Regions from separate parts of the Homo sapiens genome. Here regions 1 and 2 are each linked to region 3. Evidence: fine-mapped expression QTL. A gene starts in region 3. Each other region holds a variant in brackets. All regions are shown on one strand. Distances are from middle to middle.

Region 1 (5,343 bases), 130 kb before region 3:
TCACTGCAGCCTCAGCCTCAACCTCCCAGACTCAAGTGATCCCCCTACCTCAGCCTCTGAGTACTTACACCACCTCAGCCTCTCAGGCTTACATCACCACTCTTGGCTAATTGTTTTATTTTTTATTTTTTCTGAGACAGAGTCTTGCTCTTTTGCCCAGGCTGGAGTACACTGGTGCAATCTCAGATCACTGCAACCTCTGCCTCCCAGGTTCAAGCAAATCTTGTGCCTCAGCCACCCGAGTAGATGAGATTACAGGCACGCACCACCACGCCCAGCTAATTTTTGTATTTTTAGTAGAGACGAGGTTTCGCCATGCTGGCCAAGCTGGTCTTGAACTCCTGGCCTCAAGTGATCAGCCCGCCTCAACCTCTCAAAGTGCTGAAATTACAGGCATGAGCCACCACACCCAGCTGACTTTTTTTTTTTTTTTTGCCCAGACTGGAGCACAGTGGTGCAATCTCGGCTCACTGCAACCTCCACCTCCCTGGTTCAAGCAATTCTCCTGCCTCAGCCTCCCGAGTAGCTGGGACTACAGGCCCATGCCACCATGTCCAGCTAAATTTTGTATTTTTAGTAGAGACAGGATTTCACCCTGTTGGCCAGGCTGGTCTTGAACTCCTGACTTCAAGCAATTTGCCCACCTTGGCCTCCCAAAGTGCTGGGATCACAGGTGTGAGCCACCACGCCTGGCCAGATTTTTAAATTTTTTATAGAAACAAGGTCTCACTATGTTGTCCAGGCTGGTCTCAAATTCCTGGGCTCAAACGATCCTCCTGCCTTGGCCTCCCAAGTGCTGGGATTATAGGCATGAGCCATCACACTCAACCAAAGCTCTTTTCATTTTGATGCAAAAAAGAAAACTCCTCTCCATAGGTATTTTTGGTAACTGTAAGCAGTTGGAGAGCCAACAAAGTGTTTTATAATGTGGGATGTGTTAATTTTTTGTCTAATAGTTTCGTTTAGAGGATAAGGACAGTTCAGACAAGAGATAAAGGTTTAAACAAAGGAAGTGATGCAATAATATTTTGGAAATTTTTTAAGAAAGAAAATTAGCAGAATTAGAGATAGGGAATGAAGGAGAATGAGAGAAGAGGTCAATGCTAATTCTCATGTTTCTAGCTTAGGTGACTGAGTAGAGATGGTGCCACCAACTGAGATGGATAACACAGGTGTATTCGTGGTAAGAAAATGTGGAAATGGGCCGGGTGCAGTGGCTCACGCCTGTAATCCCAGCACTTTGGGAGGCCAAGGTGGGCAGATCACCCAAGGTCGGGAGTTCAAGACCAGTTTGACCAACATGGAGAAACCCCGTCTCTACTGAAAATACAAAATTAGCTGGGCTTGGTAGCTCATGCCTCTAATCCCAGGTACTCGGGAGGCTGAGACAGGAGAATCACTTGAACCAGGGAGCCGGAGGTTGTGCCATTGTACTCCAGCCTGGGCAACAAGAGCGAAACTCCGTCTCAAAAAAAAAAAAAAGAAAGAAAAAAGAAAACGTGGAAATGGCCAACTGCAACTGGTTGCAGGGTCTGAGAGGTGGATGTAGAGGGACAGTTTGGGGAGGCATCAGCATACAGATGGGGGTTCAAACTATGAGAGTAGGAAAGTCAACTCTGAAACTAAGTAACGTGAGAAACATAGTAGGTGAAGGATAAAATTTTAGAAGCACCAATGTTTTAGCAGTAGGAGAGCCAGGGAAGACGTGCCCAAGAAAGGCCCCAAGATGGAGCTCATCATATAAGGAGAGTTAAGGGAGTATGATGGCGCTGAAGAAAAGCAGCTTCAGGAATTGCCCAACAGTGATGAAAGCAGCAAAAAGCTTCAATAAGGGGAATCCTGGGAAGAAAGTGGTAGCTGGGGCAAGGTAGTTTGTGCATCTTCCCAACATAACCAGGTGACAGAGTACACCCATCAGTGCCAAAATACATGCAGGTGACAACATGCCACCAAGCGCCATGAGACCCGAGTATGAGGCATCTATGCAAGGGAAACAGTGAGAAGCAACGGGAAGACTGACCTGAAACAGGAAAACCCCAAAAGGGCCACCAGGCCTCTGCTGGAAAGCCCGGCAGGCCAACCCGAGAAGAGCGGCTGAGGCTGGGAAGGATGGGACCACTTCCAGTACAGGGAGTACAAGGGGCTGAGTGAGATCCAATGGGGCTAGAAGTTGAGCCCAGGAGCTCTCAGACTTGACCCTGGCTGCTCTCTGCCAGGACAGAGCCTCGCTGAGAGGACACAGCTGGCAGTGGAATCACAGCTGGCCAGAAAAAGGAAAACTGACATGAAGGGAAGAGAAGATCCAGGTAAAAGTGGTGGAGGAAAACAAACAAAAAATCTCAGTGAGCAAGTTCCCATATTTGGAACATTCCGCAAAAACGATAGAAGAGGGAGCACTGCAAAGTCAGAGGAGCTACCCTGAATCTCCTTCTAAAGCAAGCTTGTCAACCCACAGCCCATGGGCCATATGCGGCCCAGGACGGCTTTGAATGCAGCCCAACACAAAGTTGTAAACTTTCTTAAAACATTATGACTTTTTTGTGTGTGACTTTTTTTTCTAGCTCAGCAGCTATCGATGGTGTTAGTGTATTTTATGTGTGGCCAAAGACAATCCTTCTTCTTCCAGTGTGACCCAGGGAAGCCAAAAGATTGGACACCTGTGTTCTAAAGGCTCAGAAAACTAACTCACATATAGTTTCTATAAAGAAGAGAAGACTAAATAGCAAAACATCCCTCCAGACAATGAAAGTACGAGAGAAACACACACTCGAAAAAACTGATGAACCTATAATG[T/C]TCTATCTTGAAATGATCTAAAAGACATGAAAGTATATAAATCAAAATCAGAAAAAACTCAGAAATTAGGTAGCAGAACTCAAGACAGTAGCTATATGATCTGACAAGATACACACGGTAAAATGAAAGAAAATTGGTTTCATAGGACAGAATGAGCAAAAAAAATTTTTTTTACCTGTTTCAGTAATCATGAATGATAGTATCAGTTGCAATATTGTACGTGTAATCTGGGATAAAGCAAATGAATAATTATGGAATATTCTAATTTTATCATCTTCTTTATTCCTGAGAACCAGAATTCTCAGTATGGATGACAGTATTTATGGATGTAACATAAAAAATAAAAACCTTGTAGTCCTAAATATGAATTGGAAAATCTGCATGAACTCAGGAGGAACCCTATCCACCTATCTATCTATTCACACACATCTACATGTATATAAATATTTATTTACTTATTGCCTAGAAACAATGAACAACCGAGTTATATATAATAAGTATCCCTTAGCACCGAGACTGTGTACTTGAAATGCTATTTCCCAGCGTGGAGACAACTGGATATCCATATGCAGAAGAATGAAATTGGATCCTTATCTCATACCACTTAGAAAAATCAACTCAAAATGGAATAAAGACCTAAATGTAAGACTTGAAACTACAAAACTGCTAAAAGAAAACATAGGGGAAAAACTGTAAGACACTGGTCTGGGCAATTATTTTTTATATTTGGCCCCAAAAGCGCAGGGTGACAAAAGCAAAACTGAACAAATGGGATTCCATCAAAATAAAAAGCTTTGGCACAATAAAGGAAACAGCAGAGTGAAGGCACAACCTGTGGGTGAGGAGGAAAACACGTGCACCCACACATCTGACAAGGGGCTCACGCCCAAAACATGTAAGCAACTCAACAACAACAAGAGCCACAACCACCACCAAAAAAAAAGGCAAAATATATAAGGAACCCAAACAACTCTATAGAAAGAACAGTCTGGCTGTTGTCCTGTGCCGGAGGACAGCAGGCAGCCATGGTGCCCAGCGGGAATGGCAAGATCTTGAAGCCCCACTTCCACACGCACTGTGCAGCGGCTGAAGGGGTACCGCTCCAAACTCATCCTCTTCCCCAGGAAGCCCTCGGTCCCCAGGAAGGGAGACAGTTCTGCTGAAGAACTGCAATTGGCCACCCAGCTGACAGGACCAGTCATGCCCATCCAGAATGTCTATGAGAAGGAGAAAGCTCAAGTCACCACTGAGGAGAAGAATTTCAGAGCCTTTGCTAGTTGCTGCATGGCCCGTGCCAATGCCTGGCTCCTCCACATATGGACAAAAAGAGACATGGAAGCTACAGAACAGGATGTTGAAAAGAAAAACTGAAGCCCTCTTGGGGACTTGTAATAAATCAGCAGTATTGCTGGGTCCCCAAAAAAGGAAAAAAGAAAACCCTACAGAAAGAAATAATCCAATAAAAAATGAATAGACATTCCTCAAAATAAGACATACAAACTGCCAACAAATACATGAAAAAATGTTCAACATTACTAATCATTACAGAAATAAAACCACAGTGAGATATTACCTCACACCTGTTAGAATGGCTGCTATAAAAAAGATGAAAGGTAACAAGTGTTAGCAGGGATGTGGAGAAAAGGGGGAATCCTTGTACACTGTTGGTGGGAATTTAGATTAGTAGTCATGGAAAACTATGTGGAGTTTCCTCCAAAAACTCAAAATAGAATTACCATATAATCCAGCAACCCCACTCCTGAGTATTTACCCAAAAGATTTGAAAAGATTATGTGGAAGAGATTCTGCTCTCCCAAGTTCACTGCAGCACTGTTCCCAATAGCCAAGTTACAGAAATAACCTAAGTGTCCATTAACAGATGAGTGGATAAAGAAAATGTAATATATATACACCACAGAATACTATTCAGCCTTTAATAGCACCACAGGGTGACTAAAGTCAACAATAATTTATTGAACATTTTATCTCGAACTCCTGGCCTCAAATCATCCTCCTGCCTCAGACTCCCAAAGTGACAAGATTACAAGTGTGAGCTACTGCACCCTGTACATTTAAAAATAACTAAAAGAGTATAACTGGAATATCTGTAGCACAAAGAAATGATAAATGCTGGGCCAGGTGCAGTGGCTCATGCCTGTAATCCCAGCACTTTGGGAGGCTGAGGTGGGCAGATCACTTGAGGCCAGGGGTTTCAGACCAGCCTGGCCAACATGGTGAAATCGCATCTCTACTAAAAACACAAAAATTAGCCGGGTGTGGTGGTGGGCACCTGTAATCCCAACTACTGGGGAGGGTGGGGCACAAGAATCACTTAAACTTGAACCTAGGAGATGGAGCTTGCAGTGAGCTGAGATCACACCACTGCACTCCAGCCTGGGTGACAGTGCGAGACTGTCTCAAAAATAAATAAATAAATAAGAAAGAAATGATAAATGCTTCAGGTGGTAAATATCCAATTTAGTCTGATGTAATTACTACACATTGTGGTGTGCTTTTATTAAAATTCTTATGTACTCCATAAATATTTAT
Region 2 (5,335 bases), 51 kb before region 3:
TCAAATTTAATTTTAATTTTATTTAATTTAATTTTATTTTATTTTATTATTTATTTTCAAGACAGAGTCTCACTCTGTCGCCCAGGCTGGAGTGCAATGGCGCGATCTCAGCTCACTGCAACCTCTGCCTCCGGGTTCAAGAAATTCTTCTGCTCCAGCCTCCCAAGTAGCTGGGATTACAGGTGTGTGCCACCATGCCCAGCTAATTTTTATATTTTTAGTAGAGATAGGGTTTCACTATGTTGGTCAGGCTGGTCTCAAACTCCTGACCTCAGGTGATCCACCTGCCTCGGCCTCCCAAAGTGCTGGGATTACAGATGTGAGCACTGCGCCCGACCCAACTCTCAAATTTTAAACAAAAGATTAAATAATAATTAGAGTTGAAAATTATTGAGCTCTCACTCATATTAAGTTCCAGGTCTAGTCACTTTATATGAAATAACTCATTTATATTTCCCAACAACCCAATCATACAGACATTACCATTATTTCCACTGGGAGATAATAAGGCACAGAGAGGAAACTGAAGGACAGAGAGGTTAAATCAATTGTTGAAAGTGAGATTTGAACTTGGGGAGTGTAGGTTCACAGCCCATATTCTTAGCCTCTGTGTTCCCAGGTTATATCCGCTTTTGTGATAGAAAATATCTTTCATTAATTAAGTTTTCCTCTTTCCCTTTTTGTTCGATATGAAAGAAGAAAATAAAGTTAAAGTTGGACTCTTTTTATAATCTGGACCAGTGTAACTATCACAGCCAACCTAGACAAACATGTTTGAGTATCGTAATGCTTACAAAATGATATTTCCTATAAAAAAAAGAAAACCCCAAATGGACAATGGCACAAACATGGTAGAAGTTAACGTTTCACTCTAAAAACCCCAAATGGGTATTTTTGATCAGGGAACTCTTTCTAAGTGGCGATTTGTGAACCCAGGGTCCTTCCAGCTAGTGCCTCTACTGCCCTCAAGTGGCATCTCCAGTTGCCATGTCTGTGTGCACTGGGCAGGCAAAAGGAGCTTGGCAGATTGTGTGTCAGTTATAGCACGTCTGGACCGTCACTTCTGTTTGCTTTCATGGGCTGGAGCTCCATGCATGGCCACAGCTAACCACAAGGGAGCCAGGAAACTGGCTATTTATCCAGGAAGCAGAGGAGATACTGAACAGCTTGCAGGTCTCTGCCACAATGTCTATTGATAACGTATGTCAGATGTCACAGAAGAAAATATGGTAGTTCTTAATGAGAATGCCATAGATTATTCTTAAAATTCATAGATGTATACAAATGTTAACAATCTTAATGGTATTTTAGGGATGCGGAAAAGGCAAATTTGTATCCATAAGTATGGTGTCATTTTTTTGTCTTTTAGGAATATGTGTTTTTAACCTTATTTTAAATTATTTTAATTTGTAGGGCCCTTTAAAAGGACGCAGAGTTGAAGGAATTCAATATGAAGACATTTCTAAACTTGCCTGAGTTTGAAAATTTGTTAACAATACATTAAAATCTTAAAGCATCAAATTGGTGTTCGCCAAGGCATTATGAGACTCTACTGTGTTAGGGTATATTCTTTTGTATAAAACAAACAGGTTTTTGAAAATATTACTGTATAGTTGTTCAGCTAAACTTTGAGAAGAATTTAATTATGTCTCATGAGGTATCAAACTATGTAATTTTGTCCTTGTTATTTTTGTTTCCTTTGTAATTTACTTGATGAGTTTATATCTTCATTAAAGAATGTTATTATAAAGTGTTTTATCTATGACAATTTAGAATCATGTAATTGGAGGAAATCCTTCATACACTCTATATTTTCAGTAGTAGAGTAGTAAAGTTGAACTCTAAGTGTGACTAAATTTTAAATGTCAAACTATAAATATAGAAGCAGCTTTATTGTGGTAATAATTCATATACCATACAGTTCACTCATTTAAAATATACATACAATTCAGTGGTTTTTAGTATTTTTGCAGAATTGTGCAGCCATCACCACTGTCTGATTTTAAAACACTTTCATACCCCAAAATGAAACCCTTTAATAGTCAATCGCTATTTTTCCCCTCTGCCCTAGCCCTAGACAGCCACTAA[T/C]GTACTTTCTGTCTCTATGGATTTGCCCTTTCTGGACATTTCTTATAAATGGAATCATATAATATGTGATCTTTTATGACTGGCTTCTTACACTTAGCATCATGTTTTCAAGGTTTATCCATGCAGTAGCATGTAGGCGTGCTTCATTTGTTTTTATGGCTGCTTAATATTCCACTGTATGGATGTACCGTATTTTGTTTGTCCATTCATCAGCTGATAAACATTTAGATTGTTTCTACTTTTTGGCTATTGTGAATAATGCTGCCATGATCACCCATTTACAGGATTTTATGTGAACAGAAGCTTTCGCTTCTGCCAAACTCTTCCAGAGCAGCTATACCATTTTACAGTCCTACCAGCAATGTTGAACTATAGTTTTATTTGTTTTTAATTTTTTTACTTTTAGAGACATGGTCTCACTGTGTTGCCCAGGCTGCTGTCAAACTCCTGGGCTCAAGTGATCCTCCTGCCTCAGCCTCCCAAAGTGCTAGGATTGCAGGTGTGAGCCACAGCACCCTGCCTAACCATACAGTTTGAAATAAGTAGGGCAGTGTATTATTAGGGAATGCAAAAGACAGGAAACCCACATTTGCCTGTGCCAAAGGAAAAACGAAGGGATATTTGTAGTGCACATGACTGAAAGGAGCAGACGCTAGCTTCCAGGGCAGCGGGACCGGGTGTGAACAGCCTTCCCTGGGCTTCCGCTCTGTCTCTGGCTCCTGTGCTGGCTCTCTACATTTACATTCTTGAGCACTCTAGGTTTACATCTTACCCTTCAGCAGCACCGGGAAGAGAGAGATGATCTATCTTTTCTTTTTCTTTTTTTTTTTTTTTCTGACACAGAGTCTCACTCTGTCACCCAGGCTGATTGCAGTAGTGCAATCTCGGCTCACTGCAACCTCCACCTCCCGGGTTCAAGCCATTCTCCTGCCTCAGCCTCCTGAGTAGCTGGGACTACAGGCATGCGCCACCACGCCCAGCTAATTTTTGTAATTTTAGAAGAGATGAGGTTTCACCATGTTGGCCAGGATGGTCTCGATCTCTTGACCTTATGATCTGCCCGCCTCAGCCTCCCAAAGTGCTGGGATTACAGGCATGAGCCACTACGCCTCTTTTTTTTTGTTCTGTTTTTTGAGATAGGGTCTTGCTCTGTCATCCAGCCTGGAGTGCAGTGGCACAATCATGGCTCACTGCAGCCTCGTCCTCCTGGGCTTAGGTCATTGATTCTCCCACCTCAGCCTCCCGAGTAGCTGGGACTACAGGCATGCACTACCATGCCTGGCTAATTTTTTTGATTTTTAGTAGAGATGAGGTCTTGCTATGTTGCCCAGGCTGGTCTCAAACTCTTGAGCTCAAGCAATCCTCCTGCCTCGGCCTTCTAAAATGTTGTGATTACAGGTGTGAGCTACCACGCCTTGCCTGAGTTGATCTTCTACAAGAGTTCAAACAAAAAACAGACCATACCAGGATGATCACTTCAAACATGAGGATGGGTATAAGCTGACGTCAGACACAGGTATGGTGCCAAACCCTGGGATCTCTCTCTTTAACTGAGAGTCAGGGAGGGCTGATTGCTTCTATTCTCAGAAGATGGGAGAACGTATGCTGTTAGCAGAAATGTAAGAGGCAGTAAAGAAATACTAATAGGATGATGGCAGAAGCTTTACAGAAAATGTTCCTCAGGGATGAATTAAGGTTTTTCCAAAGTAACCTGACAGCACATTATGGAAAGCAACTGGGTTTTGGGTGTGGGCAGTCTTTAGATCAAATTCTGGCAGTTCTGTTCATTGGCTTTGTAATATTAGAATGTTAATGTTCTTGAATTGCAATGTTTTTAATGTATAAATTGTCAAAATGTTTTTCAGCAGGGTTGATGGGAGACCTACAGAAAATACATATAAATCATCAGACATGAAGTCCAGCACATAGTAGGTATTGAATAAATGGCAGTGAGTGGTCATGTCCAGAAATGAAGCCAAGAAGTTGAGCCTGGACTACTAAGAATCTGGTCTGAAGAATTTCAAAAAGGAGAATGGTTCTCCCTGATAACAAATAGTGATGAGTAAAACCAGACAAATTACATATGCCTCCCCCAAGTATGTACGTTTGGAATCAACTTGGTGGTTTTCTTCAGAGAAAAAATGTTTCATGTCTGCCTCCCACATTTAATTCTCCAACGTCTTTCTGAAATTATTTCAGAATGAAATGAGGCAGCATACTTGAGGTTAAATTCAATAAAAAATATCTGAAGCATAAAAATACGATTATAGACTTCACAGTAGTTTTTTCCCTCTGAGTCTGTAGAACTTGATAGAGTTTATGCTAAGCAAAATGACTGCAGATAACTAACAACAGGTCTCATATTAGACTTTGATTTTTGAAGTATCATAAGCTATTTTTCTTTATTTCAAACATAGACTTTACTTTTTAGAGCAGTCTCTGTGGGTTTTGACAAATGTATAATGACATGCATCTGCCACTGTAGTATCACACAGAACAGTTTCACTGCCCTAGAAGTTTCCTGTGTTCTGTCTGTTCCCTGTCTCCCCCCAAATCCCTGCTGACCGCTGATCTTTTTACTGTCTCCCTAGTTTTGTCTCCATCGAAGGTCATATAGTTGGAGTCACACAGGGTGTAGCTTTTTCAGATTGGCTTCTTTCACCTGGTAGAACATATGCATGTAAGGTTCCTCCATGTTGTTTTGGTTAGGTTTTTGTGGCTCGATAGCGCACTTCATTTTAGCACTGCATATTCTATTGTCTGAATGCACCACAGTTTATGCACTCACCTACTGAAGGATATCTTGGTTGCTTACAAGGTTTGGAAATTATGAGTAAAGCTGCTACAAACATCTGTGCGCAGGTTTTTTGTGGATAGACGTTTTCAACTTATTTACGTAACGACCAAAGAGCACAATTGCTGGATCATATGCCAGGAGTCTTCTGAGAAACTACCAACCTGTCTTCCAGAGTGACTGTACCATTTTGTATTCAAACGAGCAGTGAATGAGAGTTCCTGCTGCTCTGCATCTCCGTCAGCATTTGATGTTGTCAGTGTTCTGGATTTTGGCCATCTTAATAGCTGTACAGTGGGATCTTGTCATTGCTTTAATTTGCATTTCTTTGATGAAGTATGATGTGGAGCATCTTTTCATGGGCTTATTTGCCACCTGTATATCTTCTCTGGTGAGATGTCTTTCAGGTTTTTTGCCCATTATTTAATTGGGTTACTCATTTTCTTATTGTTG
Region 3 (5,000 bases):
GATCAGCTTAGGGTTGCTGCTTCCGTAAATACCTCCTCTCTCAGCATGTGGGCTCCGTGGGGAAGAAGCCAAGCCCTTCCTGGTGTTCTGGAAAACTCACCCCCTTAATTAGAGGGTTTTGTCTATACTGCTGCTGGTGGCCGCCAGGATTGCAACTTCCAATGTGGCCAATTCTCCTTCTCAGGTGCCCTCAGAGTGACCAGAGGAAGGAGATTGTGAGGCTGCAAGGGGGAGTGTCTGTCATCGCTAAAATAAGAAAAGTCTTCCTAACAGGAAATCCTTCCGGCAAGGCAGGAAATAATTTCGGAATCTTAAGTTTTGAAGAAAACACATAGCCATGTATTCTTTTTTTTTTTTTTTTTTTTAAATGGAGTGGGGACAGCGTCTCCCTCTGTTGCCCAGGCTGGTGCAATCATAGCTCACTGCAGCCTCGAACTCTTGGGTTCAAGTGATCCTCCATCTCAGCTTCTCAAATAGCTGGGATTACAGGTGCATGCCAGCTAATATATATATTAGCTGGGTGGCAGAGGTAGAGCCTCACTATGTTACCCAGGCTGATCTGGAACTCCTGGCCTCAAGTGATCCTCCCTCCTTGGCCTCTGAAAATGCTGTGATTATAAGTGGGAGCCACTGTGCTGAGTCGTGTACTCTTTAAGGGACTAAATTGAGCATTATGGTGTGAAGGCTGCTGAGCAGTTGTGTGAGTTTCTCTTTTTATTTCACCTGGGTGATCTCTTCCACCAAGGTGTAAGAAGTCTGGACTCTTCTGTGCTAAAAAACAAACTCTTAAGAAAATCTAGCAGAAGGCATCTTAACACTTGTCTTCTTCTGCCATAATCTCTTTCACTTTTTTTCCCCCTTTTGGGAGTAAACCTTACTATACCTGATATCTCCGGTTCTCTGCCACCAATTGAAATTTGCCTGGGGCCAGTTCCACAAGATCTTCATAGTCTACAAACTTAAAAAAAATTAGGATTTTAACTTTTTTTTTTTTAATTATACTGTAAGTTCTGGGGTACATGTGCACAACGTGCAGATTTGTTACATAGGTATACATGTGCCATGTTGGTTTGCTACACCCATTAACTCATCATTTACGTCAGGTATTTCTCCTAATGCTATCCCTCCCCTAGCCCCCCACCCCCTGACAGGCCCCAGTGTGTGATGTTCCCCTTCCTGTGTCCATGTGTTCTCGTTGTTCGACTCCCACTTATGAGTGAGAACATGCGGTGTTGGGTTTTCCCTTCTTGTGTTACTTTGCTGAGAATGATGATTTCCAAAAGATCTAGAGCCAAAGAGATAGCTGTTGGTATTCATTATTTTATATTCTTTCCTCTACCTCTGGGCAATCACAATTTTGTATAAAATGATTTCTTTAGTATATTTCTATTTGCTGGTTACGTCTCAGAGGTGTCCAAATGGAGGGTAACAACACCTTCGCATTTGTTGGACATGGGAATTCATTTTTGAGTTTGCCAGCAGGTGGTAAGACAGAGATCAAAACAACCCAGTGATTAGGTGGGTGTCTGGGGAAGTATCTGGGTAGACCCTGGAGGCATTTGCAGTGTCTGACTGGACAGACATGAACCATACATCTCCCCAAGTTAAAAATGTAGGTATTTTCTAAAAGGAAATGCCAGTTAGAAATGACTGAAAAAGCACAAACACATTTGGATGTCTTGGCTTCAATTTGAGATTTCTAACACACTCTGGTGGCTTTTAAGTGTTGGAAAATATGATAGTTTCAAAGCAGACAGAGTGATATTTTCCCTTTGTAAATATGCCGTCATATTCTCTGGCATTTTTATAGGTAATCCACTCTGCAAGTATTATAAGCCTTTGCATTTGCTGGGATGTTCCCATAACATGCTTCGCTTTTCTGGCATAAAAATAGCTCTTGTATGACTTTCAGAAACAGACTTTCAGTCCAAGACTTTCCTTACATTGGAGATGGCTAAGGGACAAAAGTGGAGACCTGTACTCCATGGGAATTATTCTTGTACTTTTCCACCCTGCCTGCTATCTTCCGCTTTAATAGGAATACTTAAAGTGCTCTTATTACAAATATCACTGTTCACTTAGATATGAAAAACAGTGTGCTTTGATAATGACTTTTCTTATACTCTTAGTAAAAGAGTGATAATATTTCTTCATCATCATAACAGCTAGTAATTATTAAGCACTTACTAGTCCAGGCGCTCTGCTAGAAGAGTTTACACTGTGTCATTTAATTCTCAAAGCAAACCATTGGGTTAGGTCTATTCTTACCCCCAATTTTTTAGGTGAGGAGTGAGCAGCTCTGCTCCATAAATGCTACGCTCTGATGCCTGCCCATTGATCTTGACTTAATTTTCATGCAAAACCTGTTAATGCTTTAAAAGGTAAATATACATTCCAGTAATTATAACAGTAAACACTTGCACTCAGATGAATTTTATCTTAAGTTTCCATTACACACAGAATAAGGCCATTGAATAGCGATTCCAATAGATGATTTACTGAGCTCATGAACAAGCCAACAGCAAGGAGTGATCTGTAAGTACTTACTTCAGAAAGTCCATTTATGGGGATTTCGAAGCCTGATACTTCAGAAAGAAAGAAGCAGATGAAAAAGCACGTGAGTCTTTTCATTTTGCTGGACAGTTTTGCCAAGCTCCCCAAAGCAGATGGTCTGGGGAGGATATCACTTCTTCCTACTGAACCAAGTTCAAAGGAACAGCAGAGGAGTACAGTTCGCTTTAAGAAAGAAGAAAAAAGAAGAAAAAACTCTCTAACTTTGTTCAAAATTGGGACAAATATTTGTTCTGGAGCTCAAACTTGAGCTGTGTGGGTGGATCGAACACCCAGAGGTTATTCAAACAGCAAAGTCAGAAGCAGTTGCTTACTGTGAGGACAAGTCAGGGGCAGATGGATGTGCTTGAATGTGCTTGTGTGCTTTTATTTTATTTTTATTTTTTATTTTTTGGCTTTTGCTGATTTCTATTGATCTTAAAATCAGAGAGACCTACAGATAATTGTCATCCTTTCTAAAGGACCAAGTGCAGAACTATTCCAAGAAACAAAATCCTTTGATCTAAATGAAAGCAGGAAAAATTTAGAAAAAGTGGGAGAAGACACAGAAGGGTTTTTCTGAGCAAAGAATTCATTGTGCATGTTTTCCCCTATCTCTTTGATGACTGTCTACCTGTTACCTATAAAGACCCAGGCAAGTGGCTGTGCAGGATACTAGGGCAGATCTTCAGTGAGAATGCTTCGTGAATGTCTTTGATTAAGGTAACAGTGTCTGTCCTGCTGCCCCTATCAGCCGGGCTCAGGTCAGTGGCAAATCAATACTCCCCAGTCTCAGAATTGGAGTGCAGTGGTGAGATCAAAGCTCATTGCAGCCTCAACTTCCCCCGGCTCAAGCAATCTGCCCACCTCAGCCTCCAGAGTAGCTGGACTACAGGTGTGCACTACACTGCCTGGCTATTTTTTGTAGAGATGGGATTTCATCATGTTGCTCATCCTGGTCTTGAACACCTGGGCTCAAGCTATCTGCTTGCCTCAGCCTCCGAAACTGCTGGGATTCCAGATGTGAGCCCCCATGCCTAGCCTCCATCCTGGTCAGATTCTATTTTTCTTGCAACAAACAGGAAATGTAACTTCTTGGATGCAACACTGAAATAGGAAGCTCCAGCTGTGGGCAGAATTACAATACAAGGGAGGTTGTCTTATCCTCAGGACCAAGCACCCCAGGCCAACTTCTGGGATCCTGGAGCTCCTTGCTACATTTAAAGCCCAATTCACAGGGCATGCAACAGAGAGTTTTCTGCATTTTCCTCCCTAGTTTCCCCTCAGTCTTCGAAATTGCACAGCCGTGTGTCTGCTGGAGAAACATAACTTCTGAAATAATGGAAGGGAGAAAACAGATTCTCCCCTCCCTTGCCTAGGTTGGACTAGTTGAGCGCCCACCTTGGCCAGTGAGTGCCTCAGTGGACCCCTCATGGAAAAATCCTGCCACAGCTTTGCATTCTTGACTGAGATACTGTTTCTGGAGAATTAAGACCCAATGGCAGCTGGGCGCGGTGGCTCACACTTGTAATCCCAGCACTTTGGGAGACTGAGGCGGGTGGATGACCTGAGGTCAGGAGTTTGAGACCAGCCTGGCCAACATAGTGCAACCCCGTCTCTACTAAAAATACAAAAATTAGCCAGGTGTGGTGGCATGCGCCTGTAATCCCAGCTACTTGGGAGGCTGAGGCATGAGAATTGCTTGAACTGGGGAGGCGGAGGTTAGAGTGAGCTGAGATCACGCCACTGCATTCCACCTGGGCAACAGGGCAAGACTTGGTCTCAAAAGAAAAAAATAAATAAATAATAAAAAACCCAATGGCATGTTCTCCCAAAAACAGCAGTGACTTTCAAAATCATACCTCCTTCCATTGATCATTTCCTTTCTGATTATTTTAATCTGATATTCAGAATTATCTCAGAATAAACCAAACCAAAAGCAGGCTGGACTTTTTTCCATGCTGATACTCTGTCTTCAGATCCCAAAGTCCTTTTTTTTTTTTTTTTTTGAGAGGGAGCGTCACTCTGTGGCTCAGACTCAAGCGCAATGGCATGATCTTGGCTTACTGCAACCTCCACCTCCCAGGTTCACGCGATTCCCCTGCCTGAACCTCCCAAGTAGCTGGAATTACGGGCGTGCACCACCACAACTAACTTTGTATTATTTTTTTTAAAGTAAAGATGGGGTTTCACCATATTGGTCAGGCTGGTCTCAAACTCCTGACCTCGAGTAATCCACCTGCCTCAGCCTCCCAAAGTGTTGGGATTATAGGCGTGAGCCACTGTGCTCAGCCTGATCCCAAATTCTTGAAAACAAAACAAAACAAAACAACATTTGCTCTCTCTCTCAATGTTCAGAAGCACGACCGCGTAGGCTGTGTATTCAGGCTACTGAGTCTTGAACCTGAGACCCTTTCCCCTTGCACTCCCCACCCCACTGCCAACCCCTC

The links. PIP is the estimated chance that this variant, and not a neighbour inherited with it, causes the effect.
Region 1: its variant is fine-mapped to the expression of ITIH2 in tibial nerve (GTEx, PIP above 0.99).
Region 2: its variant is fine-mapped to the expression of ITIH2 in tibial nerve (GTEx, PIP above 0.99).

Annotation. Positions count from the first base shown.
Region 1 is chr10:7,832,433-7,837,775 of GRCh38, reverse strand. The region is part of intron 2 of TAF3 (TATA-box binding protein associated factor 3); the gene reads right to left. Among named protein-coding and RNA genes, the nearest start is that of TAF3, 17 kb to the right of the region's middle. The variant T/C (reference allele first, on the strand shown) is at 2,794.
Region 2 is chr10:7,752,221-7,757,555 of GRCh38, reverse strand. It overlaps KIN (Kin17 DNA and RNA binding protein), which reads left to right. Exons shown (of 13, transcript NM_012311.4): 13 at 1,414-5,335. The coding sequence ends at 1,476. Among named protein-coding and RNA genes, the nearest start is that of KIN, 33 kb to the left of the region's middle. The variant T/C (reference allele first, on the strand shown) is at 2,089.
Region 3 is chr10:7,701,066-7,706,065 of GRCh38, reverse strand. It overlaps ITIH2 (inter-alpha-trypsin inhibitor heavy chain 2), which reads right to left and starts at 2,750. Exons shown (of 21, transcript NM_002216.3): 1 at 2,548-2,750; 2 at 884-958. The coding sequence starts at 2,631.